Linked DNA regions of Homo sapiens. The protein of the gene in region 1 purifies or fractionates together with the protein of each later gene. This does not show direct contact. Each region holds a gene or a part of one and is shown in the gene's direction. Other genes may lie near its edges.

Region 1 (7,021 bases):
ACTGCTTACTGTAGGTGTTTACAAATGTGGAGACCCAGCTAGTATTTCTCTACTTTTAGTTTATTTTTTGAAGTTTTTTTTTTTTCCCCTCTGACTGTTCAAAATTCTCTGATCCTGGAAACACCAGGGTGGGGTTCACATATCTATAGTGTCTGTAGAGTGGGAAGATTTGTGACATTTGATTGTATGTCTCTCTCTGTAAACTACTCATCTGAAAAGAAAAAAGAAAAAAATTTCAGGCAAGTAAGGATGATACTTATCTGAATAGATGTCTTTTTTGTTTTCCTGAAAGTTTTGAGGTTAATAATCTTGATTTCAAAAGAGCATCAGTTATAATGCTTTTCTTTTCTTTTTCTTGAGATGGAGCCTCGCAGTCTCCCAGGCTGGAGTGCAGTGGTGCCATCTTGGCTCACTGCAACCTCTGCCTCCCGGGTTCAAGCGATTCTCCTGCCTCAGCCTCCTGAGTAGCTGGGATTACAGGCGCCCACCACCACACCTGGCTAATTCTTTGTATTTTTAGTAGAGATGGGGTTTCACTGTGTTGGCCAGGCTGGTCTCAAAACCCTAACCTCATGATCCTCCTGCCTTCGCCTCCCAAAGTGCTGGGATTACAGGCATGAGCCACTGCACTCGGCCTATAATGCTTTTCAAAAAAGAAATCTCATGGTTGGAAGTTGACGGGGCATACCCAATTTTTGGAAAAGTACACTTTATTGGTTAAAATGTCATTATAATTAGCAAATGACTATACAAAATGGCATTCTTGTATTCAATATTCAATATTATTTTGTGCTTGAATGAATCACCCAGTTAGTTTTCTGACCAAAACACAATCCTTTTTAAAAAATTTGTTTACAATTTCAGTATGTTATGTAGTTACAGATGAGTAAGTCAGAGAATTAATTTCACAATGAAGTAATTAACACTTTCAAAGGACTGTACTTTAAAATTTCAAAGTGTGATGTTTTCTATTGGTGTAGAATGAGCCTAAATAAGGAGTAAAAAGACACGAGCCCTACTCCTTGATCTGCCAATGACAGATGACTTTGGGCCACCATGTTATCTCTCTGAGCCTCAGTTTCCTTATGGTGAGAACACAGTAGTCTCCCCCTTATTTTCAGGGGATGCATTCCAAGACCCCCTGTGGATGCTTCAAACCATGGTTAGTATCAAACCCTATATATACTGTTTTTTTGATCTGATAACCAAGCCTGCTACTAAGTGACTTGTGGGTGGGTAGCATCTACAGTGTAGATAGGCTGGACATAGGGATGATTCATGTCCCAGGCTGGACAGTGAGATGGCAGGACAGTACAAGATTTCACCACAAAGAATGTCATTATAACTAAAATAGATAAGGTATGTGAACATGCTTCATAAGCTGAAAAGCGCCACACAAATGCCAGGTTTTGTTCTAGTGGCCTTGTCTAATGTGTCGAGACACAATCTATACTGCCCTCCGAGGTGGTGTTGAAACAGTGGAAATGCAACGAGATCTGCTTTGTTTCCCAAACTGGATTTGGTTAGATTGGAAAATAAACTAAACATGCTTGAGCAGAGGCTTTGAAAAGAATAAATATTAAATTATGGAAATGCCTTCTTTATTTGACTTTCTGGTTGGAATCAGCCTTTAAACACATCTTAATTTGAATAGAGTTATGTTAGGACCCTTTATAAGGCAAATTCAGCTAGTTTTAACAATTGAAACTACCTTTTTGGTTTTTATTGAACCACGTGTGTACATTCATGTAGGGATACACTGCTAACTAGCTAGATTGGCGGTCCTCAACTAGCCATGATTTTGCTCCCAGGGGATATTGGCAATGTCTGAAGACATTTTGTTTTCCTTTTTTTGGTAGAGACTGGGGTTTTGCTGTATTGCCCAGGCTGGTCTTGAACTCCTGGGCTCAAGCAATATTCCCGCCTCAGCCTCCCAAATGACTGGGATTACAGGTGTGAGCCACCACACCTGGCCTGAAGACACTTGGTTGTCACAAGTTGGAGTGTGGTATGCTGGAGTTCTGGCAGCATATGTATTGAAGCCAGCAATGCTGCTGAACATCCTGCAGTGCACAGGACAGCGCCCCACAGCAAAGCATCTGACCTGAAGTGTCAGTGGTGCTGAGGTTCACAATAAGCTCCTGTGCAATGAGGACATTTAAAAGAAATCAAAATGTTGATAACGTTATTGCTGGGTCTTTGATATGTTGCCTTAGGGTGGAAGAAGTATGTGTAATTAAAGGAACTAAGCTTTCTGCCCACCTTGAAGTTCAAGATTGTTTCGTATGGCATCCAAAATGAGGGAGACTTTCTTTTTCTGAATTAAAAATTTTCATTTATTTTCCTTTTCTGTAACAACTCTTCTCTCAAGGTCCCCCTGCAGTAGCAACTTATACGGTTTCTTATACGGTAGTGTGGCAGCCTTTTGGGGAAGGAGGCACATGCAGAGGAGCTCACAACTTTTGCTTTAAAAAGCCAAGCACTACAGGATGTAACGTAAATGAAAGATGCAGTAACCTCTGGAGTCACCGTGACTTCCCTGTCAAGCTGCCAGCAGTTCCCTAGGTTGGAAAATGGGCATGGTCATAACCTAACCACTTCTGAATAGGTTTCAGAATGACCATGTTCAAAAAGAGATGTGTGGCTGGATGCGGTGGCTCATGCCTGTAATCCCAGCACTTTGGGATGCTGAGGTGGGAGGATCACTTGAACCCAGGAGTTTGAGACCAGCCTGGGCAACATAGTGAGACCCCGTGTCTAAAAAAAAAAATAACTTAGCTGGGTGTGGTGTTGTGTGGCTGTAGTCCCAGTTCCTTGGGAGGCTGAGGTGGGAGGATCACATGAGCCTGGGAGGTGGAGGCTGCAGTGAGCCCTGATATCATGTCACTGCACTCCAGCCTGTGCAACAGAACAAGACCCTGTCTAAAAAAAAAAAAGATGTGCAAAAATATTTTAGTCAAAGGTAATGTCTGACTATGATATAAATAATAGCAGTATAGTAAAGGATGAGCATCCCCAATGCAGAAATCTGAAATGCTTCAAAATCCCAAACGTTTTGCATGCCTGCATGATGTTCAGAGGCCATGCTCTACAGAAATGCTCACTGGAGATTTTGGATTTTGGCTCTTCAGATTAGGGATGCTTAACTGGGCATAAGGACATATTCCAAAATAAAAAAAAATGTAAATCAGAAACACTTCTGGTCCTATTTCAAATAAGGGATACTCAACCTGTATAAAATATCCAGTGTGTATAAATGAAGCATATGTTAAGCCCTAGGAGGAGCTCTGCCTGTTTGAGTTTTACCAAAAATAAGGTAATATTTTATGGTTTTTTTTTTTTTTTTTTTTTTTTGAGATGAGGTCGCTCTGTCACCCAGGCTGGAGTGCAGTGGTGCCATCACAGCTCACTGCAGCCTTGACCTCCTAGGCTCAAATGATCCTCCCACCTCAGCCCCTCGAGTAGCTGGGAACACAGGCATGCGCCACCACACCCGGCTAATTTTTGTATTTTTCATAGAGACAGGGTTTTGCCATATTGCCCAGGCTAGTCTTGAACTCTTGGGCTCAAGCGATTTGCCCACCTTGGCCTCCCAGTGTGCTGGGATTACAGGCATGAGCCACCACACCCAGCCAATATCTTGCATTTGAATCAAGTAGTGGACATTTATTGGATCCCTTGGGGCCGATGCCATTTCTAAAAGTGATTGAGTAAATATCACAGGTGGGCAAATCAAAGAGAAGGATATTCTGGTTGTTTCAAGGTCCAGGTAATTCAGGCCATGGCACAGGTGATCCTGAGCTTAGGAAGAACTCACCCATGCCTCAGGGGCCCAGCTGCCCTCCTCCCCTCACTGCTGGAGCACCTACAACAGCTGTGAAGCATCTTGTGCTTTTGGAGCCTTGACATGGGAAGGAACAGGAGAAAGCAGGACTGATGTCTCCAGACCACCCCTTAGGCAAACCCTCTTTGGTAGCATCTTAGACCCAAATATTTTTTTCCTTCACGTCACGTTGCCTGAATTTTTTCACCTTAGTTTGTTGTACTGCCAAATATTTTATTTGGAATAACAAGTACCTTTGAAAAAAAAAAAGCACATACAAACTTCAGCTCCCCTTTGAGGCTTAGCTCCAACAGCACCTTTCCTTTCCTTCTTAGAAGTAAGCTTTCTGGGTTTGAATTCCTACAGCACACATTCTGACTCATAGCATCTGTGACTTGTTATTTCACATTTCCATGGATGCATCTCATCTGCCTTGCTGCACTGTAGGCCCTTCGGCTTTTATTTTTTTTTAATTCTTAATCTTTATGGGTACATAGCAGGTATATATATTTATGGCATACGTTAGATGTTTTGACACAGGTATGCAATGCCTAATAATCACATCATGGAAAATGGGGTATCCCTCTTCTCATTTATTTGTGTTACAAACAATCCAGTTATACTTTTAGTTATTTTCAAACGTACAATGAAATTATTGACTATAGTCACCCTGCTGTGCTGTCAAATACCCGGCCTTATTCATTCATTATAACTATTTTTGTCACCCATTAACTATCCCCACCTCCCTCCCACCCTCCCTCACTACCTTTCCCAGCCTCTGGTAACCATCCTTCTATTCTATATCTCTGTGGGCTCAATTGTTTTGAGTTTTAGATCCTGTGGCCCCTTTGACCATGCAGATCATGGCCTATTCATCTTCACACCTAGATAGGAGCCTGCGCAGTGCCTGGCCAGGAGCAGGCATAAGTGTGTGCAAATAGAGGAATAAATAGCAGGGCAGCAACTATGTCTGGAGGTCATTGTCTTTCCTGTCTCAGTAGTAATCAATCACTGCTTATCTTCAAAAACCCAGAGTAGGGGATGGGGCAGTTAGTGGGGACAGAGGGCAGATGGGTAAGATTCAGAGCACAGGCTAGTGTGACGGAAGTTTAAACTTGTGAGTTAAATAGGGTTTGGCAATCTAGCTGGATAGCATCCCTGCCCCTTGAAGAGATGTTTTTGTGGCGCCACACTACTGACTTAGGCATAATGCCTAGAGATGGATTAGAACTGCACAATGAACTAGTGGTGAGGTTCAGTTTAATGGAAATTGGTGAAAGCTTTTAGGATAAAATGATAATCTTTGTTTCTTTCAGGAAAATGGCAGACAATTTTTCGGTAAGTGTTTTATGCCTGTTTCTTCCCCTTGATCAGCTCCACATGGTTGAGGGTTGGGGGTTTTGTTTTTACCATGACTTTCCCTTTTCACTCTCCCACTGCGTGGCTTCCCCTGGACTCATTTGTCCAATGAGGGCTTGCAAGCTGGAGCCTTGTTTTTCCAGCAGCAGATTTGGGAAGAAAGCCAGGCAGAGCGAGGCCTGGGACTCACTCACAGTAACCCTTTCACCAAAAGGCCCAGGGCGGAAGGGAGTGGACTCTGCCGGCAGGAGCTGAGAAATCCTCTGAGTAGCGGGAAGTGCGGTACAGTCTGGGCATTCTGATGTTTGTGATTGTTTTTCTCACGGTGATGAAAAAGTATGTGCTATAAGTAGAGGAGCGCTAACTCCTGACTTGAGCTAATTATGAAAATGCAGCCCTCCCTGATCTGAGACGTTGGGAGGCAAGAATAAAGTGAAAAAGTATATGTAATCCCAACATCTAATTTTAGTCTTAGAAACTCAAACTATTAATAAGTGGAAAAAGTTTAATGATATGCATGTAATGCCTTTGCCATATTCCTCTCCTTCTTAGATCACATATTCCTATTTTCCTGAAAATTCTGCTTTTGAGAATGCTTTCTGTCCCGTAATTGTGTATGTCTTTCTTTCCAGCTCCATGATGCGTTATCTGGGTCTGGAAACCCAAACCCTCAAGGATGGCCTGGCGCATGGGGGAACCAGCCTGCTGGGGCAGGGGGCTACCCAGGGGCTTCCTATCCTGGGGCCTACCCCGGGCAGGCACCCCCAGGGGCTTATCCTGGACAGGCACCTCCAGGCGCCTACCCTGGAGCACCTGGAGCTTATCCCGGAGCACCTGCACCTGGAGTCTACCCAGGGCCACCCAGCGGCCCTGGGGCCTACCCATCTTCTGGACAGCCAAGTGCCACCGGAGCCTACCCTGCCACTGGCCCCTATGGCGCCCCTGCTGGGCCACTGGTGAGATGGCATTCCTTCTTTCATGTACTTGACATGCAGAGGGCTTCAGGGAGACCCTGAGCTTTAAAGCTGCTGCTTAGAGCCACTTCTCAAGGGCCAGCCATGGGTGTATGTTGGTAGAGTCAAAAAATTAAGTGTTCATATTGAGCTTATTGTGTGTGGTTAGTATAAACAGAAGGTAATGAGTATTTTGAAGGCACTGATAAAACTGCTTATGAATATAAATCAAGATTGTAGTAATGGAGAACATTTTGGTTATTATTAACACTTACGGAGTACATGTCAATAGTATGCATCTACATGGATAATCTCATTTAACCCCATTACCACGCTATAAGATACTGTTAATAACCCCATTTCACACATGGGGAAATGGGGCAATAGAGAAGTGATATAATTTGTCCAGGGTCATTGAGCAAACATGTAGAGGAACCAGGGTAATCTGGTTTTGAAAAACCTTCTAAAGATAATTTTGTGATCTAAGGGTTGAATTTTCACGCAAATTAAAATATGTCATAGCAAGTGAATTCTAAGTGTAAAACATAACTCCATGGGGGATCCAGATACATCTCAGCCACAGGATCCTTCCTTTCCAGATTTATAATCTAGTTGGATGATAAAACATATAATAAATATGAGGAAAGAGCTAAGTACCAGTATGGGATTAGACCATTTCAGGACTATGCAGAAGACAGCACAAGGTAGCATTGTCTCCTTTTAGGTCAGTTTAGAGTAGAAAGACTTGGGGGAGTGGGTGGCATTGAGAGGGCCTATACCAGAGATGGTTAGTCAGTTGCAGAGAGAGGGAGACATGAAGGCTGTGGAAAGGAACAGGCAGATGTAAGAGAGATTACAGAGGAAGAACCCCCAGAATCTACTGATT
Region 2 (7,805 bases), on another chromosome or scaffold:
CACAGGCCTTCTGGCAGGAGGGAGTGTGTAGATTCATGGTGGTCAGAAAGGCCAGTCCCCTCTTTATCTGGTGGAGCGACATCATGAGGCTGGGGACAGCAGCCAGAGGCAGATCAGATCTGGTCCGGCCGTGTGCACCCAAGTTTGGTTCTCCTTCTCCTAGCACTGGGAGGCCACTGCAAGATCTCAGCCGTGATGGCGTGGGGGTGGTGGAGGATGTGTATTTTGCAAGGACTAGATCTGGATTTCAAAAAGATCACTCTGGCAGTAAAATGGAGTACAACTCAGGAACAGGAGGGCAGAGTGGCTGTTTGGAGAAAGGCAAGATAATTTTACAGTCTAGAAGAGAGCCTGGAAATGCTCCCTTCCACAGAAGTTCCAGCTCCTGCAGCCTAGTTCCGTCCTCATGCAACCTTCCTTCCGTGAGGTTCTGCCTACCAAGAGGGAAGGAGGAAGGACCTGTGCAATGAGCTTTAACCCGAGACAGAGAAAGTGAACAAACTGGAAGTCCAGCTGGCAAATGAGTCCTTTTTGTGTCCATATGAATGAGTTCGCCTAGGTGAAATAATTCAAAAGTGGTTTCTGAATTTGCAAGTTGAGAACTCAGCTCTGGATTCTTGGTGACCCCAAGTACAGGAGGCCTGAAAGGCCCTGTCTGAGAATATGCACTAGGCAGCTCCATCTCCTGTACTCACCTTTTAACTCCAGTTAAGAAGCTATCATGTACACCCCATCACTGAGAAGATGTGGAAAGTGAGGCCCAGAGAGGTTTAGTAACTTCTCCAACATCACACAGTAACTTTTAAGGGCCAGTCCCTGAACTGTCATCCTAAAACTCATTAGGTGTGTGATCCTTTCAAAATGCTCTACTGGCCGGCATGTTTAGGGATGAGTAATGGAGAGAGTCATAAAAACATACTTTTAAATTAAATTCTTTTTTTCAAATTTTCTGTACATTGTGCTTTAATTACCATCTCCAGCCCCAAGAGTAGAAGGGCTAAAGAAAGAATGGGCATTCAGTCTAAAGTCTTAACACTGACTACCTGAGCCTTCAACAATTTCTGGTATTAACATTATATAGCACTGCACCCAAGAAATTCACAGATGCTTTTAATGAGTGTTTCTGTATAGATAGCAGTGCCTTTATTTCTAGATTGAATTTCCAGGCATAACTGGAGAACTTAGACCCAGTTTCCAGCCTCCAAGAAAAATAAGTTCCTTTTGCTGCTAGCCCTCATCTGCTATTCTTTTTTTTTTTTTTTTTTTTTTGAGATGGAGTTTTGCTCTTGTCGCCCAGGCTGGAGTGCAATGGTGCTATCTCAGCTCACTGCAACCTCTGCCTCCCTGGTTCAAGCGATTCTCCTGCCTCAGCCTCCCGAGTAGCTGGTTTTACAGGCATGCACCACCATGCCTGGCTAATTTTTGTATTTTTAGTAGAAATGGGGTTTCACCATGTTGGCCAGGCTGGTCTTGAACTCCTGACCTCAGGTGATCCACAAGTCTAGGCCTCCCAAAGTGCTGGGATTACAGGTGTGAGCCACTGTGCCCGGCCTATTCTTTAAATTAACAAATATAAAAATTCAGTGACTGTTCCCAGCCTCTTACTGTACAGTTTCACTCTCTGCACTGTTCCTGTTTCCCCTTTGCTGCTACGTGGGTTTCCTGCTCTGACCATTTCTTTCATATGGTTTCCCTCACACCTCTGAGACTTTAGTGCTATTTCTGGGCTTTATTGCTGCATTGTCAGTTGTTTATTCTTTGTTCCACTGCCTGTTCCTTTGAGAGCAGCTGAGAAATCAAACCTTGGCCTTCATGTTGTTGGTAGAGATTTCACTTCATATTTGTAATAATTATTCATTTATGTTTTGAGAGATTTCCCCATCAGTTTTAAGATTGAACATTAGAAGTGATTTACTGTCAGCCAAAGTCAAATATAATGTGGTTTTCACAGGGTTTTGTTATTTTATCTTTCCAAGCAAGGTACAGCTTTATACACTCATGATTTTTGATTACCAAAATTCAGAAGTACGTTTGTGTTTAGCAGTTTTTACGAGAATCTTACAAGATCATTTTAAACTTTCATTAAAAGCAAGGAGAGGTCCAGAGGGCTTTGAGATTGCAGTTTGTCTGAAGCCCTTGACTTTCATTCAAATTGGCAGTCTCTTTTCCAAAAAGAGCATTATTCTCTCATCTTTAAAGTATGCTGGGTTTAGTCAGTTTGGATACTAAGCAAGTTATCAGGAGATTTCTCAAACATTAAGAAGAGAAAGCCAAGCCGTCTTACTCAACCCAGGGCCACAGCCTCCAGGGGTGTTGGTGAATAACAGTATAGTGTCCCTTCATTTTAATCTATTCCTGCCTGTGTTGACACTCTACTAGGACAACCAGATGAAAAGGGAAAAAGCTCGAGTTGAGGTACCAAAGTCTTTTGCCTACACAATGTTAGAGGGAAACAAAGTCTGACTGAAGTGTTCTGCTGTGTGGTAAATATTACTCTCTCCAGAGAACATGATTATAACTTCTCTAGAACCTGGAAAATGTACTCCCTGCCCCCTCTGCCCCGCCCCCAACCACCCACCAGGAGGGAATAAAGCACATTGTCTGGGAAATGGCTGAAATGCAGGCACAAAGTAGGTTTTCAGAAGCGGCTATGAGTTGAACCTGTTTTTATATGGGTCTAAAAATCTCCCAATTTAGTCTGTTTAGTTATTGAAGGATTGCTATTGTGTTTGCAAGCATCACTGACTTTTACATCTTCTTATTGGTTCTTCTTTGGGTATCAAATCTTCGCATTTGGAGGAATGTATTTTTTAAATAAAGCGAGGCACAGCAGCCCTTAGTAGAAAGCAAAATGGTCTTCAAACTGCCTCTAGGCCATTTCCATGAGGATATCTTGACCCATAAGTGGCTTCCGAATTTCTGTATATGAGGGGCTAGTTGATAGGATGTTTGAAGCTGTGTTTACAGATGATCAGAAAACTGTCACTCATCCATATCAAAGGAGAGGAAGTTATGGAAGTCCTAAACCCATTAATCCACCCTTTAGCACTGCCCAAACCCAGACTTCACTTCAAATTAAGCACATTAAAAATGGAGTTCATATTTTCTCCTAAAAATCAGCTTCTTGGCCTCCCTTCCCAACTTCCTCACCTGTTTAAGGCAGTATTTTCCTTGTCAGGTTAGAAACATTATAACTATCTTTGTTCTCCTACCTAGCTTCCTCCTTCCCAATACCCAATTAATCATCAAATTCTATCATTTTTTCCTTAATAATGTCTTGAAAATTTTCCTCCATTCTTTATATTCCAGCAAAACAGAAACAGAAGGTGAGGATCCAGCTCTCCAGTCTGGATGGGGAGACTAGAAACACACTACATACAAGTGAAAAAAATTTCATAGGAATTACAAGAATACCAAAACAATGCAAAATAACAGCTCCAAACAAGCCTTGTATACACATCTCCAGGCAATAGCTGGCACTGCATTTGTCCAGTAGTAATCTAGGGCAGTGGGTGGGGAGGTCCTTCTGCTGCGCAGGGGCTGTGGTGAGGCCTTTCAGGTCCAGCTTAAGCCACTCTGATTCCAGCCACCACCCCACCTTAGATGGGCAAGCTGTTCCTTTCCAGATCAACTCATCTCCACCCACAACACAGTGCTTATGTATTCAGTCTAAAATAGCACAATTTATCAAGAGTATTCCATCGTAATTTTAAAATGTCGTGTTTATATTTTACCTCCACCTGGACAGAAACTCGTTCCTTTGTATTCTTACTGCCCCTCCACCTCCCCATAGCAACCAGCACAAGATTCCACCGTGTGTAGTCTATAAATAAATGTTAAATCATAGAGCCTTAGAATTTTGGAGTCAGACGGGGATCTTCAGAGTTGCATTTGTCCAGTCCTTTATAGATGGGGAAACAGGTCTAGAGAGATTAGGTGACTTGCTCAAAGCCACACAGCTGGCTATTGACAAGGCAAGGAGCAGAGCCCAGGTTTCTCCTGCCTGAAGTCTGTACCCTGAACTGTCCTTAGATAATCAGTGACAGACACCTGAGTTCACACAAGGTCTCCAGGGGTTGATGGTGATAGGAGAAACTGGCTTTCCCAAAACATGTACAAAGATTCGGTCCACGCCCCTAGCAGACCTTCGGGAGGACTAACTCCTCAGCTCGGCGTCCAGCAGAGTCCCAAGTTACAGTCGCACTTGTTTATGCGTCTGTCGGCCTCCTCCGACAGGACCGAGTACTCGAGGGCCCCGCGCTCAGGGGCTCCCCTCCGGCCCCTCCCCCGCCGCCGAGCTGTCACACAGCCGCCGCGCGGCCCGCCCCCACGTGGACTGGGCTCGGAGGATCAAAGTCTGTTTGCAGACTTTGCAGCCCGGCCCCCGCAGGTGTGCTGGGAGTTGCGATGGTCCGCAGGCCAGGACTCCGCCACACCCGAGGGGACCCGGCCAGCCCCTCCCCCTCCCGCTGCACGCGGCCCGCGCCCCCAATTCGCCCGCCGCTGCACCCGGCCACGGCCCCCCGGCCCACGCCCGGCTCCGGGAGGAAAAGGCCCCGCCCCTATCTGTTGGAGCCGCGACCCCGCCCCCTTCCCGCCCCTCCGAGGCTCCATCCAATAGTGAGCGTGGCTGGGCGGGACGCCGAGGCTGTCGTGAGGGGGTCCTGACCAATGGGGAAGCGTGCCGGGCCTGGTGGGCGGGGCGGCAAGGCCTTGTCACGCTCGGGTCCGTGTGAAAACGGGGGTTCCGAGTGCAAAGCAAAGTTTTTTTGTAAACCGTCTGCAAAGGCGGGGGGGCGAAGAAGGCGCCCGAGACCGGGCCGAGTGCAGCTGCCGTGGCCGCCGCCTCTCTAGCTCCTCAGCCATCCGCTCCTCAGTCCAGCCGCCGCAGAGGAGACCAGCAAGCAGAGCCCTCAGATGCTCGGAGCTTTCTCGGCGCGAAGCTGCCCGTCGCCCTCTCCTGCCGCCCTCGCCCGCCGCCCTCCTGCTCCTGCTCCGGCTGCGGCTCTTGGTACCCCGGCTCCGGGAGCCCAGCTCCCCGCCACCGCCGCCGCCTGGGTGTGGGGGCTGCTGAGGCTGAGCCGGGCCTCGGCGCCGGCTCTGAGGACGGACGCCTGAGGAGCTGCGCGGCGCGGCGCCGCCGGCTGGCGGAGAACGCCCACAGGCGCGGGGCTCGGCGGCTTGACCCGGGCTTGTCCCCGTGCGGCCGCGGGGGCCCCTCAGCGGTTTCCCGAACGGCCCGACTCGGGCGCTCCTCCGTGTCGCGGTCGCCGACCCTCCGCGTCCCGCCAACGCCGCCGCTGCACCAGTCTCCGGGCCGGGCTCGGCGGGCCCCGCAGCCGCAGCCATGGGGTGTTGGGGTCGGAACCGGGGCCGGCTGCTGTGCATGCTGGCGCTGACCTTCATGTTCATGGTGCTGGAGGTGGTGGTGAGCCGGGTGACCTCGTCGCTGGCGATGCTCTCCGACTCCTTCCACATGCTGTCGGACGTGCTGGCGCTGGTGGTGGCGCTGGTGGCCGAGCGCTTCGCCCGGCGGACCCACGCCACCCAGAAGAACACGTTCGGCTGGATCCGAGCCGAGGTAATGGGGGCTCTGGTGAACGCCATCTTCCTGACTGGCCTCTGTTTCGCCATCCTGCTGGAGGCCATCGAGCGCTTCATCGAGCCGCACGAGATGCAGCAGCCGCTGGTGGTCCTTGGGGTCGGCGTGGCCGGGCTGCTGGTCAACGTGCTGGGGCTCTGCCTCTTCCACCATCACAGCGGCTTCAGCCAGGACTCCGGCCACGGCCACTCGCACGGGGGTCACGGCCACGGCCACGGCCTCCCCAAGGGGCCTCGCGTTAAGAGCACCCGCCCCGGGAGCAGCGACATCAACGTGGCCCCGGGCGAGCAGGGTCCCGACCAGGAGGAGACCAACACCCTGGTGGCCAATACCAGCAACTCCAACGGGCTGAAATTGGACCCCGCAGGTGAGCCGGGAAAGTCGCTGCCGCAGGTGGTTGGGTTTGGGGTGCCCAGAGCCTCGCCTGGCCTTCGGCGGGGTGGCCCGCACGCCCCCTGCTGCCCGAGCGGGCCTGCGCCGCGCCGCCCCTGCCTGCTCCCTCCCCGTCCTGCACACGCCCCGCTGCTGCTCCAGGAAATCAGAACCCCCTCAGTCGGGTGCAAGGAGCCGGCGACGCGTCTGGCATATTTGTAGGTGGGGGCTGTGGGTCAGACCCTAAGAAAAAGGGTCAGGAGGTGATCATCATCCCGCTGCAGTCCACACCCGCACTTGGCTGTCTTTACAGGCTGCAGCAACTTTGCTGGAGACTTGTCTGGTTATGGTTATAACAGCGTCAGAAATGCTTCCCAATTCAATTCCTTGGCCCTCTTGGGAAACGGAGAGAATCCCCAATTCGTCCCCAGTAGTTGGGTGCTGGAAACCTTGCTCTGCCAAAGTAGTTCTTATGCCCATTGAACTCCGTTTCATAATATGCATTCAGAGCGTGTAAACCCTGGTTAAAGGTTTCTTTTATGAACAGCAGTGTATGCTTCAGCTAATTGATCCCTAATCCTGGAAATCATAGATTTAGGACCTGTCTGGGCATGTTTAACATTTTCCCAGGACTTTTCATAATCGTACTGAACTAAAAGTGATGGTAATTTATTCATCTTATATTTTTAGTGGATGCTTTTTATATTTAACATTAAGTGCTCTTGAAGGAAATTTGAAAATAAATGTTGAAAGAAAGGAGATGGAAATGACTCAACCAGTGTCCTACTACCCAAGCTCAATGGTGCTTAACAATTTGGTCTTATTTCCTTCACTTACGTTTATTTACCTTGTATCATTATAAATTATGCTACATAATTTTCCTTTTCGAGTGCAGAATATGAAGTTAGTGAAATTCAAGTTGTACATTGGAAAGGTTTAATAAGTAATTGGTTTTCCTCTCACTCCACTCGGCAAGGTGTTATTCCAAAGAAAATTAAGTTTCTCTGGTGTGTAATTTCAAAAGATCAATACTTTTTATCTTTTTGAATACTTTTGATCAATACTTTTTGAAAAGATCAATACTTTTGATTTAAAAGTTAGTAGGGCAGGTAGTCATTTAGTTTCAATTTTTCTAATAATCTCTGTGATTATTGATTTTTATTGTTGATTTGTCAGTTTTTAAACCCCCCTACCAAGAAACTTTTATATTCATAATAAAAGTTTAAAAGTTAAAATTGGTTTTATTCTCAAGCAATTGGCCTCAGTGACAAAGAGTGACTAGAGAGTGCCCGAGTGTCAAATCAGGTATTTTGTATTAGTAGACTTATTCCTAGCTGCATTTAATTTTGGTGTTAGCATTCAATTTTATGTTTTCCTTTGTATATACCATAAAGTATAGCAGAATGGTTGCAGGACTCCACCCCCATAGAAAATATACACTATTTTGGAGAGGAGGAGGCAGGAGAGTGGTTAGGAGGGTGAAGAAGCAGTATCACAATGACTTAATTTAGCCCTGGCTATTATGTCCTGGCTCATTCCCAGAATGTCAATTTATATTAAATTGCTCTGAGCACATTTTTTTAATTGTACTTTCTGAAAAAATTTTCACCTTCATCACCACTTAAAAAGAATTAGACAAGGATGTTTATATAAACACTTTAAATGTATTTGATATAAAATTTTTATTTCTTTGTAGACCCAGAAAACCCCAGAAGTGGTGATACAGTGGAAGTACAAGTGAATGGAAATCTTGTCAGAGAACCTGACCATATGGAACTGGAAGAAGATAGGGCTGGACAACTTAACATGCGTGGAGTTTTTCTGCATGTCC
Region 3 (7,021 bases), on another chromosome or scaffold:
TAAGCCCAAGAAGAGAGCTCAGAAGTGTTTGTGTTACTCTTTATTGAGGAATAATTTACAGATAGTAAAATTTACCCCTTATATCTGTACAGTTTTGTGAATTATGACAAACTTACTCAGGTTGTGTAACCACCAGTGCAGTCAAGGCATAGATTATTTCCATCCTTCCAGAGAAGTCTCTGGGACCTTTTGTAGTCAGTCCCCTCATGGAATGTTTTGATCAACGTAGAAATGCCTGGAGGCTGCTGGGTGGGAGGCTGATCACTCAGCCATCAGAGCGTCCTGTGTCTCTGAGCCGTGCACCCCATTGTGGCATGGCACTGGTTGCTGGACATTCTTCTGCGGGCCCACTCACACATCTGCCTGCCTGCGGCCTGTCTGTGTTTGTCTTACTCATGCTCTTGGAGCCGTAGCGAATGTGTCTAATATTCCTTCCACGTGGTAGATTGAAACTTCACCAAAATAGCCCTGTGCGCCTACTTTGCTCCTGAACATCTCTGATTTCTCCGGCTGTCCCTGTGTGGAGTTCTGGCAGATCTCACCAGTCTACATGACCTATTGGAAATGCCAGTGGGTCATTGTGGCATTCAGACACATAATTCAAAACTGCAAATGGTGGGACCGCACTAAAGAATTTTTAGTAATTAAAGTACAGGAGGCTGAGGTGGGAGGATCACTTCAGCCCAGGAGGTCAGGTCAAGGCTTCAGTGAGCCATGGTTGCACCACTACACTGTAGCCTGGGTGACAAAGTGAGACCCTGTCTCAAAAAAAAAAAAAAAAAATATAGCCCCATCTTAGCTGACACTAGTCTTTTGCCAGGGCCTTATTTGATCAGACAAAAGCAGTGTTTCGGATCCTAGAGGTCTTTTTCAGGAACAACCCTTAAAGTTTTAGTATCCGTGTGGGTGGTAGCCCATAGACATTTCTGCAAGAGAACAGCATTGTTCTGTGGACATATTTGGGTTTTAAAGCACAAATGGCAGTGTGGAGAGGGTTTGGAGTTACTTTTACTTAGGAAGCCGATTTCCTCTTAGGATAGTCTTTGAAAGTCTTCTTGGGCAAAAATAAGGGAAAAAAAAGCAGGGGCTAGCTTGCAGAAAAGTTGATGGTCTGAGGAATTCTCAGATTCTGCTGTTTGTATGAACTGGCTCTGTAACCTTGGGCAGGTTACTGATCTTGCGAAGCCCAGCTTTCCTTTTTTTACAGCGGAGATGGATTCATCTCATGGGCTCACGGTGGGGCCTGAGCACAGTGATGTGTGCAAGGCCCTCAGCAGGATGCCAGGTACATGATAAGGGCCCTGTCAGTGGTGACCACTGTGACGAGGGTGCCTTAAAAAAGGTGGGCCTCCAGGCTGGGCGTGGTGGCTCAAGCCCGTAATCCCAGCACTTTGGGAGGCCGAGGCGGGCGGATCACGAGGTCAGGAGATCGAGACCATCCTGGCGAATACGTGAAACCCCGTCTACTAAAAATACAAAAAATTAGCCGGGCGTGGTGGCGGGTGCCTGTAGTGCCAGTTACATGGGGGGCTGAGGCAGGAGAATGGCGTGAACCCGGGAGGCGGAGCTTGCAGTGAGCCGCGATCACACCACTGCACTCCAGCCTGGAAGGTAGCGAGACTCCGTCTCAAAAACGAAAAAATAAAATAAAAAAAAAAAGTTGGGCCTCCAAAGCCTGAGGAAGCATGACATACCCAACATTTTTACAGTTGTGACACTTAATTTCATCTGGCCCAATCTCAGTTTCAATCCAGGTTGATCTGTGTTTTGAAGATAATATAGTGCTTGATATTAAATGAGAAATGAAGGCGTATTTGTTCAACTCATCAGACCAGAGTAGAAATGGTTCTACAGCTTTTTGAGATACATACTTCTTTGGGAATCCGTGAGAACCAGTGGACTCTTTTCCTGGAGAATACACACACCTACATGCGGCCTTCACAGAGACTCAGGCACAGGCGTCCTGAAACTGGAGCTCGTCAACTTGTGTGGGAGGAGCAGAGGGCTCTTGTGGGTGTTCGGGTGTCACTTGTGACCGTGGCTTCGTGTTGGACCCTTGTATGTTGCAAAATAGTGCACCTAACAATATGTGTAACCCAGTAAAGCTTCAGATGCATGTTGATTTCACAGCTTTTAAATATTTTAATTACATAAAGCGAAAGTAATATAACCAGTAACCTGTGTGAATGATTCTTTGTGTGAAAATGGGTTTATTTGTTATTTAAATGTTTTTAGTGAAAGGTATTTAATATGATGTGGTAAACCACTGATAGTATCTGCATTAGGTACAAAAGGACTTTAATTTCCTTTTTGAAAAAAAGTAGTACTTGAAGAAGTTAATGTTTTCGAGTGAAAGTATTTATAATGTCTTTGGAATTTATTTTCACTTTTGGGTGTTTTTGTTTTTGATTATTTTCCCCCACTAGACTAAGTCCGTAAGGACAGGAGCCCTCCCCTTTAGCCCCCAGGTAGAGCAATGCAGGGCCTACAGCAGGTACTCGATCAGTATTTGTTGAATCGAACTTAGTTTTCTTGTCCAAAATTTGGCTAAAATATTCAGTTATAGTTTTCAGCGCTTCTATTTTTCCCCACTCTGAATGTCCAGACTTAAAATGTTGACTTTATAAGATAAAGAATTTAAAATACTGGCACCATAGTAAAATGGGACATGAGTTAATAAACTAGAAGGCTGACAGGTGCCATTTCTGTTGGCTTCCCACAGTTAAACACAATCTTATTGGGAATTAACTCTCTCCTGGTACTTCTGGCTTTAGAGAATAGTGTGCACTTTGTTTTCCCATTTTACCCCTGAGATCCTTGGAGCCCGTTCCCCATTAGAGTGTTTTGGAGCTGGGAGAGAGTGCGGAGCTGTCTAGTGGGGCCTGTTCATTTTCTAAATAATGAAGCAGGCCCAGAGCAAGGAAGTGAAACTCGTTAGTACAAGAGCTGGGGATGCCAGGTCCATGTTCCTGCTGTGACCGGCAGATGTGAGGGCAGTGGCAGGGAGTGGAGGGACAGTGGTGTCCTGCAGGGGTCAGGGCCTCAGGCTGTAAAGCCAAGACTGCCTGGGTCCAAGTCCTGGCCATACCTCAGGCACCCTTCACACTCTCTGTGCCCCGGCATCTTCCTCTGTGCAATAGGGCCCTGAAGAGTTTTAACACCACATGGTTAATGAGGGAGCACATGGGACGCGGTGCACTGGGCACTCCCTGTTTCCTACTGTCAGGGGACAGAGCCAGGGACATCCTCCTCTCATCACCACCAGCACCGCCCTCCCCCAACAGCTCTTCCTTAATCCAAGAGCTGACAGCTTTCCTCCGAGAATAGAAGCCTGCCTCAGTCCTGCCAGTGACTCAGTTTAAACCAGCAGGGTTTTATTAACAGCATGGGTATTGGCTGTCAGGTCTTGATGTTTGATAAATTAGCTGATTAAAAATTCACACAATCCAGTGCATTTTTTCATATGCTATCCAGTGGCATAGCTAGTGTCCCTCCCAGTGTCACGTAGAGCTGCAGACTCTCCCCACACGGAGATTGCCGAGCTGGCAGCTGCGCTGGGGCTCTCAGCTCAGCCGTGGTTCACACTGTCATCACAGATCTTCCAGCCACGCCAAAATTACAGTAGCCCAGTTTCACTTTGACTAGAAAGTCCCTTTGTCAGCTGTTTCAGTACATTCTGTGACATTTAGAAATAATTTAGGTAGCTGTGTTGGGTGTGTACAATTAGTAAGTGATGGAATGAGTTGAAGCAGATTCAATACAGTGAGCTGGTTTCTTACCTCCAAACTTAATTTGTGACCAAATAATTGATTGCTGGGAGGGGAAGAAAACTAATTCCTTCATTTTATTTCCCAAAGTGAAGGCATTGGAGTCTTTCAGCAATCTTCTAAACAAAGTCTGTTTGATTCATGTAAGATGTCTCATGGTGGGCCATTTACAGAAGAGAAAGTGGAAGATGTGAAAGCTCTGGTCAAGATTGTCCCTGTTTTCTTGGCTTTGATACCTTACTGGACAGTGTATTTCCAAGTGAGTGGTGACAAACAGGTTTAATTTCCTTTATCTTCCTATGAAGTCTTACCCTAGCACTTGTTTTGGCCATTTCTAAAGTAGGTAGGACTAGGTGATTTTTTTTCCCATGAGTCTACAGAATCTTGGAATTTTTGGTTTTAGTTATGGAGTCATTTTGGCTGCTTTAACTATGTCTAAAGCCTCTCTGAAAAAGAAGCTGAGAACAGGTACGCTTCTGGTTTTTCAGGCCCCTCTTGTTAATGTAATTTCTCCTTTGGATAACTGGCCATTCTTTTTCAAAATTGATCTCCAGAGGACTTTACGATGACCAAATCATTGACCTGTCTGTTTTCAAACTTGAGCCATTGTCTATTTCTGGGAGTCACTGTGTGTCGCATCTGAGTCTAGCTTAGGGGAGGGGCAGGATGCTTAGAGTGTTTGAGAGCACAGTTGGTCCACATATAATGATACTGTTTTTTATACCTAGATGCAGACAACATATGTTTTACAGAGTCTTCATTTGAGGATTCCAGAAATTTCAAATATTACAACCACTCCTCACACGGTAAGAACAATTGTAATGATCTGAACATTGTTATTTTGGACTTATGTAATAAATGGATTCCTTCTACCAACTGTAAATCTTTTATAAATGTTAACAGCACCGACACAAAAGCATTGTTATTGAAATAGAGTTTTTACTTATTTTAGAGAATATTTTTTCATTGGTTGTATCATTTGCTAGATTAGGTTGACTAACATCAATTCAACATTACTTAGTATTTTTCACCTGATTATTTTCCCCTCAAAACACAGAAAAGCAAATGCAGATTCATTTGGAAAGAAATCTTTTCCCAGTTCCGTTGTCTCTAAACTGAAGAGGTTGTACCTTGTGGAGAGGAACTGTTCTTTACGTGCATTTCTCCCATTGAGACGTTGGTTCTCTAGACAGGTGATGGCCTGTATTGCGGGGAGTAAACGCCTCCTCCTGTGTTTCACCCCAGCTCCCTGCAGCCTGGCTGACCATGTTTGATGCTGTGCTCATCCTCCTGCTCATCCCTCTGAAGGACAAACTGGTCGATCCCATTTTGAGAAGACATGGCCTGCTCCCATCCTCCCTGAAGAGGATCGCCGTGGGCATGTTCTTTGTCATGTGCTCGGCCTTTGCTGCAGGTAAGAGGCATTCTGCTCCGTTCCTCCTCAGGCCCGACTGCAGCAGTTGTGGATTCAGAATATAGTGCTCACACGCAGTCGTGCCCCAGGTTGTTCAGGAAGTGCATGTCTGTAAAAGAGGATGTGTATCAGTTATTTTACAGCACTAATCCTTTATTTTAAAGTTTAAGATTATTTTCCTAAGGATACGTCATTTTTCTGCTGGTACTAAAACCATTGGGTTGCTCTGAAAAGTGACATTTGGACTGAGTTAAAGGGAGGTTTTTCTCTACCTACTGATTTAGAATTAGGCTATTGAATGCTGAATAGATGAATTTTTGTAAATTAAAGGTACTGTATCATCCTCAAGGATGAGAATTCCACCTTCAGATTACTAACCTTAGGTTTATTAACAAGTGTCAGGGTGCCTGCGAGTCCTTTGAATTTTTTATGTAAAATTCTGTGTGCATTTTTCTGGTGACAAAAATGTTTCTAGATTGTTACAGGCTCCTGGGCAGCATCTCCTCCCGCTACAGATAAACCTGATAAGAACAAATGCCTAAGTCTCTAAACTCTGATGAGGAGAGTTATCCTTTTGAGGATTTCCATTCTGTTTTCATAATTTTTATGTGCTGAAATGAGTTGTTTATCTTTTGCTGATAAAGCTGGGTATTGCTGACTTTCTGAATTATTTTGGAGTTCTCCCTTCATTAATATTTGAAAATTATTGACTGATGAAACAGCTTAGTTACATAATAATAAAAGTTGATATTCTTGAACCAACTATGTATTATCTGCTGTCATGAGGAATTCAGTGTTAAGCATTGCTGAAATGGAATTTAATATTCTCAAACAATGCTGCCTTCATAGCAGCTTTCATCTACTTTTGCCAGACTGAATGTATTGATATAGTACTTAATAGATTTAAAGAAATTAGTCCCTGGGCTTAAGAAATCTCTGTTCTAGAGACTGGGACATTTTAGAAGACTATTGCATTTTCTTTTGTTCAAATAGATAATTAAAGTGAGGTCGTGTCTGAATGAAGTTTTTGCTGTGCCTTCTTTATAATTCAGCTTCTCTTCCAGAGCTGTGGCACATGGGGAAATAAGCATGGGCAGAGAAGAACTGAATCACCGCAGGGCTCTAGCTGCAGGCTGCGGTTCAGCAGAGTGCGCCTGCAGAAGGGCTGTCTGCAGGAAGTCTTTGCACTGGAGGCTGTGTCTGCCTGCCTGTCCTACCTCCCCAAAGCGCAGGCTCAGCTTTGGCCTCAGACCTCTCTCTCCCCCCGGGGCTGGAGTGCCTTCTCTGTGCCCCGTCACCACACTGGTTGATGCCAAGGAAGGGAGTCCTCGTTCCCTCCCTGTGGGAAAGGAGACGTCCTTGGTTTCCGGAGGCTTTTCCAGTAGATACTTGGTTTGGGCTCCTTTCCTAACATCCTCTCTTTCAGTTTCATAAATGGCTGAATCACTTCTGTGGGCTGCCTTGAGAGCCATGCAGTCCATTCTGGTGGTTTCGATATGTGTTTGTGCAGGATACAAGTGCCAGACCAGTCACTGTTGAGATTTCCCCATTGCACTCCGTCAGTTCTGTCTTTAAAAAGCGCTAGCAGGCCGGGCACGGTGGCTCACACCTGTCATCCCAGTACTTTGGGAGGCCAAGGCAGGTGGATCACAAGGTCAGGAGTTTGAGACCAGCCTGGCCAATGTGGTGAAACCCTGTCTTTACTAAAAATACAAAAATTAGCTGGCCATGGTGGCGGGCGCCTGTAGTCCCAGCTACTCGGGAGGTTGAGGCAGGAGAGTCGCTTGAACCGGGAGGTGGAGGTTGCAGTGAGCCGAGATCGCGCCACTGCACTCCAGCC
Region 4 (7,392 bases), on another chromosome or scaffold:
AGCTCCATGGGATGTACCCCTGCCCAGCAGGCACAGGACCCGGGGGAGGCTCAGAACCCCACGTACCTGGCCACTGTGCAGACAGGCTCCCCAGCGCCAGGCCAGGCCCACCATCCACCAGGCCCAGAGGCCCCGCCCTGGGCAAGCCAGGGATCGGGGCGGGGGGCAGCTTGCGGTGCCTGCCTGGGAAGAGCCTGGCATTGTTTGCAGAACCCTTGGGACAGGGCTGCTTCTTCAGGGGAGATGCAGCCATGGGCCTGGGGCTGTGGCTGGGGTCTTCTGTCATCCCTGCCTACCACAGCTCCCTTCGAGCCCCCACAGGTGGTGGCGGATGTGGGGCTTTAGGGCCACCCTGGCCATGGGCAGAATTCTCGGCCCTGGTGGGACTCCTGGGCAGGGAGAGTGTGGGTCCCACAGGTGGCCGGAGACTCTGCTTCCTCCACTGATGTCCACATACCCCACCCTGCCAGGAGAGGCTCACCACGCTTAAAAAAAAAAAGGTTTGTTTTTTAAAAATCACTTTAGCCTTGGGTAACTGGGGCCTCCCTTCCCTCTCCTCCCTTCCCACCTCTTTCCTTTCCCTCCCCCTTCCCCCGATTCTCCTTCCTCCCCTCTCTCTTCTGCTCTGCCCTATTCGCTCTCTCCCCCACTCACCATGGGTGCTGGGCCAACAGGCAAGAACCTGGGTGGGTGCCCGGCCCTGCCAGGCAGAAGGCGGGTGGCTTTCTGGTGAGAAGGAGTGTGGGGCCTCCAGGGCCGGCCTCCTCCAGGTGTCCCCTTCCCTGGACACGGAGCTCTCCACGGACACTCTGCCTGCCAGCCCCACCTGCATCCTTCAGCCCTGGAGGTGCGCCCTGCCTGATACCCGACAGCAGGTTCCCAGCCCAGAAGGATGCAGATGGCGCACCAGGAGATGAGCCCCCCACCCTAACAGGAAAGCAGAAGTGGACTGGGGGGACCCGCGGACCTGGGGAGAAGCTCCGTGGGCAGAGGCACACAGATACCTGGAGGCAGCCTGCGTCTGGTGAGAGCCCTCCCAGGCCACAGCCCTGATTCCAAGCCGTGGGCACGAGCGGCCTCCTGGCTTGGAAGCTGGCATTGGGTGTCCGTCCTAATCCATTAGAAACTCCACCCCAGGGTGGCAGGCAGCAGGGACTGTTTCGAGAATCTACACACAGAATGTAACCACCATCGGCTACACTTTCGCACTAAATCCCAGGGTTCCCCTGGCTGTGCCCTGCACACGGCCAAGAGGCCATCGCAGATGACCAGGCTCACATCATAAGGATGCGAGATTGCATTTGAAGAGGCCCCCTGGGCAAAGCTGGACACCGATGCTTGGAAAGGGCACTAATGGTGATCGACTGAGACCCACCAATGTGTTTCATCAGCGATGTACAAATATACTTGGGAGATTGTCGGGAACCAATTCACCGTTGTGGAAACTGACAAATGAGGGAGAGGCACCCTTGCCCTGCCTTTCCTGTGGGCACCATTATCCAGATGGCCAGACGGACAAGATGAGCCTCTCCCTCCAGTGAATTCATGACGAAGCCACCACGCACTGGAAAATCACCATTTTGCTCCATGAATCTGTCGATTCAGACATCAAGCACCAACGACTGCGGACGGAGGAGCTACCACCAGACAGTGCGTGGCTCCCTCTGCGAGCCCCCGGCCTTGCCAGGGGACTGGACCCGGATCCCAGCAGTCCCCTGGCTCCAGGTGCCCACTTCCAGGAGACGCAGAGGCCTGCACCGAAAGATGCAGCTCCAACCCAGGCCTCGGGTACCTCCACGTGTCCGAGGGCCACTTCCTACAACAGGTGCCGGGTACAGAAAAGGACAGAGGGATGGAGGTGGGTAGGAAGAGAGCACTGAAAGTCACACAACGCACATTTAACCCCAGGCTGCCGTGTGGGAGGATATACGTGGACACGGAAACCCACAGAGCGAAGGGAGGGGCCACCAGACCCCTAGGGATGGGCTACTGATGGGATGGGAGGGGCCTGCAGCGGCTTCTGGGCTCCGGCAAGGGTCTCTGTCTTGACCCGCAGGTGCTTACAGGGTGCTGATCCCTGTCGTGACTCACCTGATTAGAATGCAAAAGGCAGCAGACCTCACCCCCCACCCGAGGTCTCCCACAAGTAAGATCTAAGATTTAAACAAGAGAAGCCACCTGCCTTCTGCCTGGCAGGGCTGGGCACCCACCCAGGTGCTTCAGCCATGGCCCCTGGTCCTAGTCAAGATTTTGTAATCACAGAGAAGACCACCCTCGGAGCTGCCACAGGACCCTAAACTCCTGGGCCTCAGTTTCCTCCTCTGTAAAATGAAGCTGATGAGTCCTGAGTCCGGGAGCTGGCCCTGGCCACAGACCCTCCAAACCAGCTCCTCTGAAGGTCCACAGCCAGCACATGGCGGGCAGCCGGCCCTGGGGTCCTGGGGTGTGAAGCAGAGCTTGGATGTGCGACGGGAGCCCTGCACATCTGTTGCTCCTGCTGGCATCACTTGGGAAGGCCTCGTGCCCACCCTGAGCTCTGTCCAACCCTCGGGAATAGCGCTGGGTGGCAACCAGGGTTGAATGTACAGAAGCCCCTGCTGGGGTGACTGAGGAGAGGGTTTACCCAGCACCCTAAGTGTGAACCCTATAATTGACCCCATTGGGCACTTCTGTTCCCACCCCCTGGATCTTTTTAGCAAAGCCAGCCCTCCTCATAAGGATGCCTGGGAACTATTTTATCTTCTGGGGAGGTGATGGTTTCCTACCTTCCAACCCACTGACCCAGGGAGGCAGCTGACCTAGCACCATCCACAGCCCTGAGCTCCCTTTGGTGGGAGGTGGGGTGAGAGTGTGGAGCAGGCACAGCTCCAGACACCCAGGCCAGAGGAACCCCCACCTCTGCAAGGGCTGGTGCTGGATGGGCGACGTTCCAGGAGGGTCCCAGGCCTACAGCTTCTGCCCAGAAGAGTCCATGGGGCAAAGGGGTAGAACCCTAGGCCACCCCAGGGCATGACTGGCTTTACTGGAAATGGCTGGAGAGGTTGGGCTTGCGTTCCTTGAACCCACAGAGCCCGGTGATCCCACAGCCCGGAGGCCATCACTCCCCTCCAGCTGCCTTTTAGGATTAGACAGGCAAGCGGCTAAAACATGGCCAGGCCATACCCATTTTCCACGTGACAAGAGGCTGTGGCCGTGTTTGCCCACACCACCTGTGTTTCTGCTTTGTTGTCGTACAGCAGTTGTGGGTGATTAGGAATAAAGGCTGACTCATTGCACCTGTGTGCCATAGCATTTTAGCCCAATTCCCCATTGACGGACATCTGATTGTTCCGTTTTTCATGAGTCATTTGTTGAGAAATGTGCCAGGTGCTGGCCGGTGGTATCCTGGTGTCTGCCTGGTGGGTTCTGGAACTCCACCTTCCCTGCATCACCCTGTGAGCTTCTGGAACATTTCCCAAGGAGGGAAGGGAGGGTTCTAGGGCAGGGGCCGCGGGGCACTCCTGGGGCAGGTGTGGAGGAGACTGGGGTCTTCGTGGGTGGTATTTGTCATGGGTGGGGGGGGGGACTCCCTCTACTGGGTTAGGTCCCTAAACTGGAGCTGGACCAAGCTCCGGAGTACCCCACCCCCAGGCTATCCAAGGCTCCTTCCACTGGAGTTGCCTTTGCAGCCAGGTTGGGCTAGCCAGGAGCCAGGCTAGGAGCCCAGGGTCTGAGCGGGTGTTGACAGCCTGGAGTGGGTGGGCGGACTGTGTGGGAGGTGGGTGCTGGAGGATGGCAGGGGGGAACAGGAGGGGGAAGAAGGAGGGGTAGGGGGCTGGAGCAGGAAATGGGGGGCAAACAGGAGGGGGTGCGGGAGGGGGCGCAGAAGGAGGAGGGGCCCAGCAGGAGGGGGTGCAGAAAGGGCAGGGGTTCCAGCAGGAGGGGGTTCATAGGGGCAGGGGGGCCCAGCAGGAGGGGGTGCAGGAAGGGTGGGGGGGTGCAGGAGGGGTGAGGGGTTCCAGCAGAAGGGCGTGCAGGAGGGGCAGGGGGCTGGAGCAGGAGTGGGGGGTCGGGGAAGGGGACAAGAGGGGAGGCGGGGAGGGGGCCGGGGAGGGCGGGGAGGGCGGGGAGTTCCAGCAGGAGGGGCAGGGGGCTGGAGCAGGAGGGGGTGCAGGAGACTGAGCGGGGATTCGCGGGCTCTGCGATGGTCGGGAGCGCAGGCAGCGAAAGCCCCGCGTCCCGGGTCGCGGCGGTCAGACAGACGCAGCCTGGGTTGGGGTCCCTGCAGGAAGTCGCCGCGGGCCAACTTTTCGTGGGGCCGCGGGGCAAGCAGGTGAAGTCACGTGGCCCGGGCGGGGCGGGGCGGCTCGGTCGGACCCCGCCCCTGCCTCCAAGTCCCGTGGCGTCGGCGGGAGCGGCGCAGCGCGGGCCGGGCCGGGACGGGGACTGTCGGCTGCAGGCGGCCATGCCCACCAACTTCACCGTGGTGCCCGTGGAGGCTCACGCCGACGGCGGCGGGGACGAGACTGCCGAGCGGACGGAGGCTCCGGGCACCCCCGAGGGCCCCGAGCCCGAGCGCCCCAGCCCGGGTGAGCGCGGCCGCACCTGGCCGGACAAAGGCCGAGCGCCCCGAGCGCGGGTCTGGGCCCGGCATCCGGGAGCGGAGGCGGGCGGCGGGGCCGGGGGTACAGGAGGCGCCCCTTCCCGCGCCCCCACCGCCTGTTCTCGGTCCCCCACGAGGGCCCCCACCCCACGTTAGTGGCAGCGCTAGGGGGCGAGGGGCCCTGCCAGGGCTCCCGGTACGGTCAGCTCGGGTGGGACCGGGGGCAGAGGTGTGGACGCCGCTGCTGGTAGCCATGGAAACGGGGAGGGGCTGGAGCGCGCCTCCGGAGGGAGCCCGGGCCCCTGGGTGGTCCCTAGTGGGACAGGGGTGGCGGTGGAGACCCGGGCGGTTCGGGAGCCGGGGCGTCCTGCGTCCCCCGCGCTCTCCCTTCCCCTGCGCCGCGGCCGTCCGGTAACACTAGCCCGGGCCGGCCCGTCCTGCCCCCGCCTGACCCTGGAGGAGCCGCCCACCCCCCAGAGGCGGAACAGGAAGGACTGCGCCCTGGCTGGGGAGGGGGCAGCCACCGGGGCCTTGCTCAGGCCGCGTCCTCCGTGTTCCCGTCCCCCGTTCCGGGAATCTGGAGGTTTCTAGCACTTTCACTTTCTCTAGGGGGTGGGGACGGGGCTGGGGAGAGAATCCCCCAGCCCTGTTCCCTCCATCCTGGCTCCAAATCCCAGTTACTCCCCGGATCTCAGCCCCCTCTAGAAACCGGAGGCTCTTAGGCCCTTCCATCCGGAGTCTCTGAGAAGGTGTCCGGACTCAGTCCAGCCCCCACCCCGCGTGCTGGCAGTGCCCGCATGTGCCCGGGTCTCATGCAGTGGGTGGCAGCCTCCCTGCTCCCTGGCAGTGGAAGGAAGGTGAGGTCTGTCCAGGGACAAGTCCGGTGCCAGACCCCAGATCCTTCCTAACCCACCATCCCGGGCAGGAAAGGCCAGACATCCCCTCCAGGCAGTTTAGGAACCCGGAGACACGGGTGGGGACCCACCGTGAAGGCAGTGGCCTGGTGGCCTGGGGTGCGTCATCAGGGTCCCCGTGGCGGGCGAAGAGTGGTCTCAGCTTCCTCTGCACAGAGGCCAGCCCAGATCTTGGAAGTGGTCAGGCGGGGCGCCAGGCTCAACACCAGGTGAAGTGCTAACTAAGCAGGGTCCGTGAGTCCAAGCCCCTTCTCTCCAGTCACCACCGTGGAGGCAGGAAGCACCAAGGAGTGTGGGCCCTGGCGTGGTCTTTCTGTGTGAGCTTTGTAGCAACGCCCCCGGAACGCACTCAGAAGGAGCCTCTTCTTGTCTGGCCGGCCCCTTCTCAAGGCTGATCAGGTTCACTTTTGTCTTTAGACTGTAAGTGTCATTTGCTTTTAAGCCAGAGAGAATTTTGTGCTTGTTCGTTTTCTTGTCTCTTCTACTCTCAAGGCTGTTGAGCAGTGCCCTGGGCCTGTGTCTGCCCAGCAGGAAGTGGCCCTGGCTGAGCGCTGCCCATGTCGCTGCCCGCGCACTCAGGTCCTGCTACGGGCGTGTCAGGAGGCTCCCTGGCCTTCATGAAATTGAGAACGGGAGGGCATGGGCCAGGTGTGGGCTTCTGGACACTTTTGAGGGTGGCCCTGTGGTGTGAGCTGAACTTGGGAGATTTCTCCGAACTGGCAGAGAACTTGCACCTGGCGCTTTTGTGCTGGACCCGCTTCCTACTTCCACAGAAAGGGCCCGGTGCCCAGCCACTGCCAGGCTGTAACGGGCACGCAGCTGCCCTTCGGAATCCACTTGATCACATCCTGATCTTCAGCCCACAGAGGTGCGGCGAGGAGTCCCGTGATGGGCACGGAGCCTGGGGAAGGAGGCACAGGCTTTGCTTTTTGGTGGTGGTTGGGGGCGGGGGTCCTGCAGAAGCCGGAGCCCCTCCCAAAGGCCTTCTGTGTGGGGTCCACACCACAAGGTCACAGGCCAGGTCCAAAACTGTCCGGCCACAGAGTTACCAGCACCCAAGCTCTTCCTGACTCCATTGCCGTTCCCCTGAACGGTCTGTGGAGGTACTGGAGCTTCTGGGCTGGCGCCTGGGTGACGGCGAAGCAAGTTTGGGGGGCCTGGTGGGCTGATCCTAGGCACTGCCAGGTGGGCGTGGAGAGGGCGTCCTGAGCCACCCCAACTTGAGGAGCAGGGGCCTTGGTGTCCCCAGCCTGGGTTGGGGGGTTCTGGGGAAAGAGGGGTAGATGCTGCTGCCCGGGCTGCCTGGCTCGACCCAGAGCCCAGCAAGGCCGCGTCTGCCCAGCCTGGCTCCAGGGGCCTTCTGTCCCCGACCCCTGCAGCTTCCCTGCTGCTTCTGGTGGAGCCTCTGCGGGAGGCGTCCTGTCCCGGGGATGGGCACTGTGCCCTCAGCACTTCTTGGGACGGAGCTTTTATTCTTATGTGAAATACCTCGTCTTGAAATGAGAAGGACGTGTTAACCCTCAGTTTCTCAGTGGGGTGGTTTTTTGAGAGTAGGAGGTGGGAGGACACTGCTGGGGGCCGGCTGCGTCTCGTCCGACTTCAGGGTAGAGTGGGTTTTGTAACTGACTTGGGGGAGCCCACCCTTCCTCCGTGACCACATCAGGGTAGACTCACTCCTTCCCAGGTTGTAGGGGTGCGTCCAGAGGCCTCGGAGACCCTGGGAGGGGTGGGAAAGGAGGGCTGGCCAGTGCCCCGGCCTGTCTGGAAGGTGCAGCGTGCAGAGCCTCTGTCAAGGTCCCACAGGCCCTGGCCACCCACTGTCTAGGAGGGACTTCCACTCGTCTGGGGCTCCCTGGGCTGGGAGAGGGTGGGTCCTGCCTTGTACCCCCAGGTCTC

The links.
Region 2: the proteins of LGALS3 (region 1) and SLC30A1 purify together in Homo sapiens (affinity purification with mass spectrometry; 4 studies listed by BioGRID and IntAct, with this or other methods). This does not show direct contact.
Region 3: the proteins of LGALS3 (region 1) and SLC15A4 purify together in Homo sapiens (affinity purification with mass spectrometry; 5 studies listed by BioGRID and IntAct, with this or other methods). This does not show direct contact.
Region 4: the proteins of LGALS3 (region 1) and SLC12A7 purify together in Homo sapiens (affinity purification with mass spectrometry; 5 studies listed by BioGRID and IntAct, with this or other methods). This does not show direct contact.

The regions. Positions count from the first base shown.
Region 1 is NC_000014.9:55,132,231-55,139,251, forward strand, and holds part of LGALS3 (galectin-3), read left to right. Parts: intron 1-1,121; exon of another isoform or gene 1,122-1,124; coding exon of another isoform or gene 1,125-1,162; intron 1,163-4,752; exon of another isoform or gene 4,753-5,139; coding exon of another isoform or gene 5,140-5,143; coding exon 5,144-5,161; exon of another isoform or gene 5,162-5,814; coding exon 5,815-6,138; intron 6,139-7,021. UniProt on the Homo sapiens protein: Galactose-specific lectin which binds IgE. May mediate with the alpha-3, beta-1 integrin the stimulation by CSPG4 of endothelial cells migration.
Region 2 is NC_000001.11:211,576,155-211,583,959, reverse strand, and holds the start of SLC30A1 (proton-coupled zinc antiporter SLC30A1), read left to right. Parts: upstream 1-4,798; 5' UTR 4,799-5,347; coding exon 5,348-5,969; intron 5,970-7,670; coding exon 7,671-7,805. UniProt on the Homo sapiens protein: Zinc ion:proton antiporter that could function at the plasma membrane mediating zinc efflux from cells against its electrochemical gradient protecting them from intracellular zinc accumulation and toxicity.
Region 3 is NC_000012.12:128,806,948-128,813,968, reverse strand, and holds part of SLC15A4 (solute carrier family 15 member 4), read left to right. Parts: intron 1-3,857; coding exon 3,858-4,026; intron 4,027-4,495; coding exon 4,496-4,573; intron 4,574-5,012; coding exon 5,013-5,181; intron 5,182-7,021. UniProt on the Homo sapiens protein: Proton-coupled amino-acid transporter that mediates the transmembrane transport of L-histidine and some di- and tripeptides from inside the lysosome to the cytosol, and plays a key role in innate immune response.
Region 4 is NC_000005.10:1,109,044-1,116,435, reverse strand, and holds the start of SLC12A7 (solute carrier family 12 member 7), read left to right. Parts: upstream 1-4,372; 5' UTR 4,373-4,444; coding exon 4,445-4,568; intron 4,569-5,834; exon of another isoform or gene 5,835-5,916; intron 5,917-7,392. UniProt on the Homo sapiens protein: Mediates electroneutral potassium-chloride cotransport when activated by cell swelling. May mediate K(+) uptake into Deiters' cells in the cochlea and contribute to K(+) recycling in the inner ear.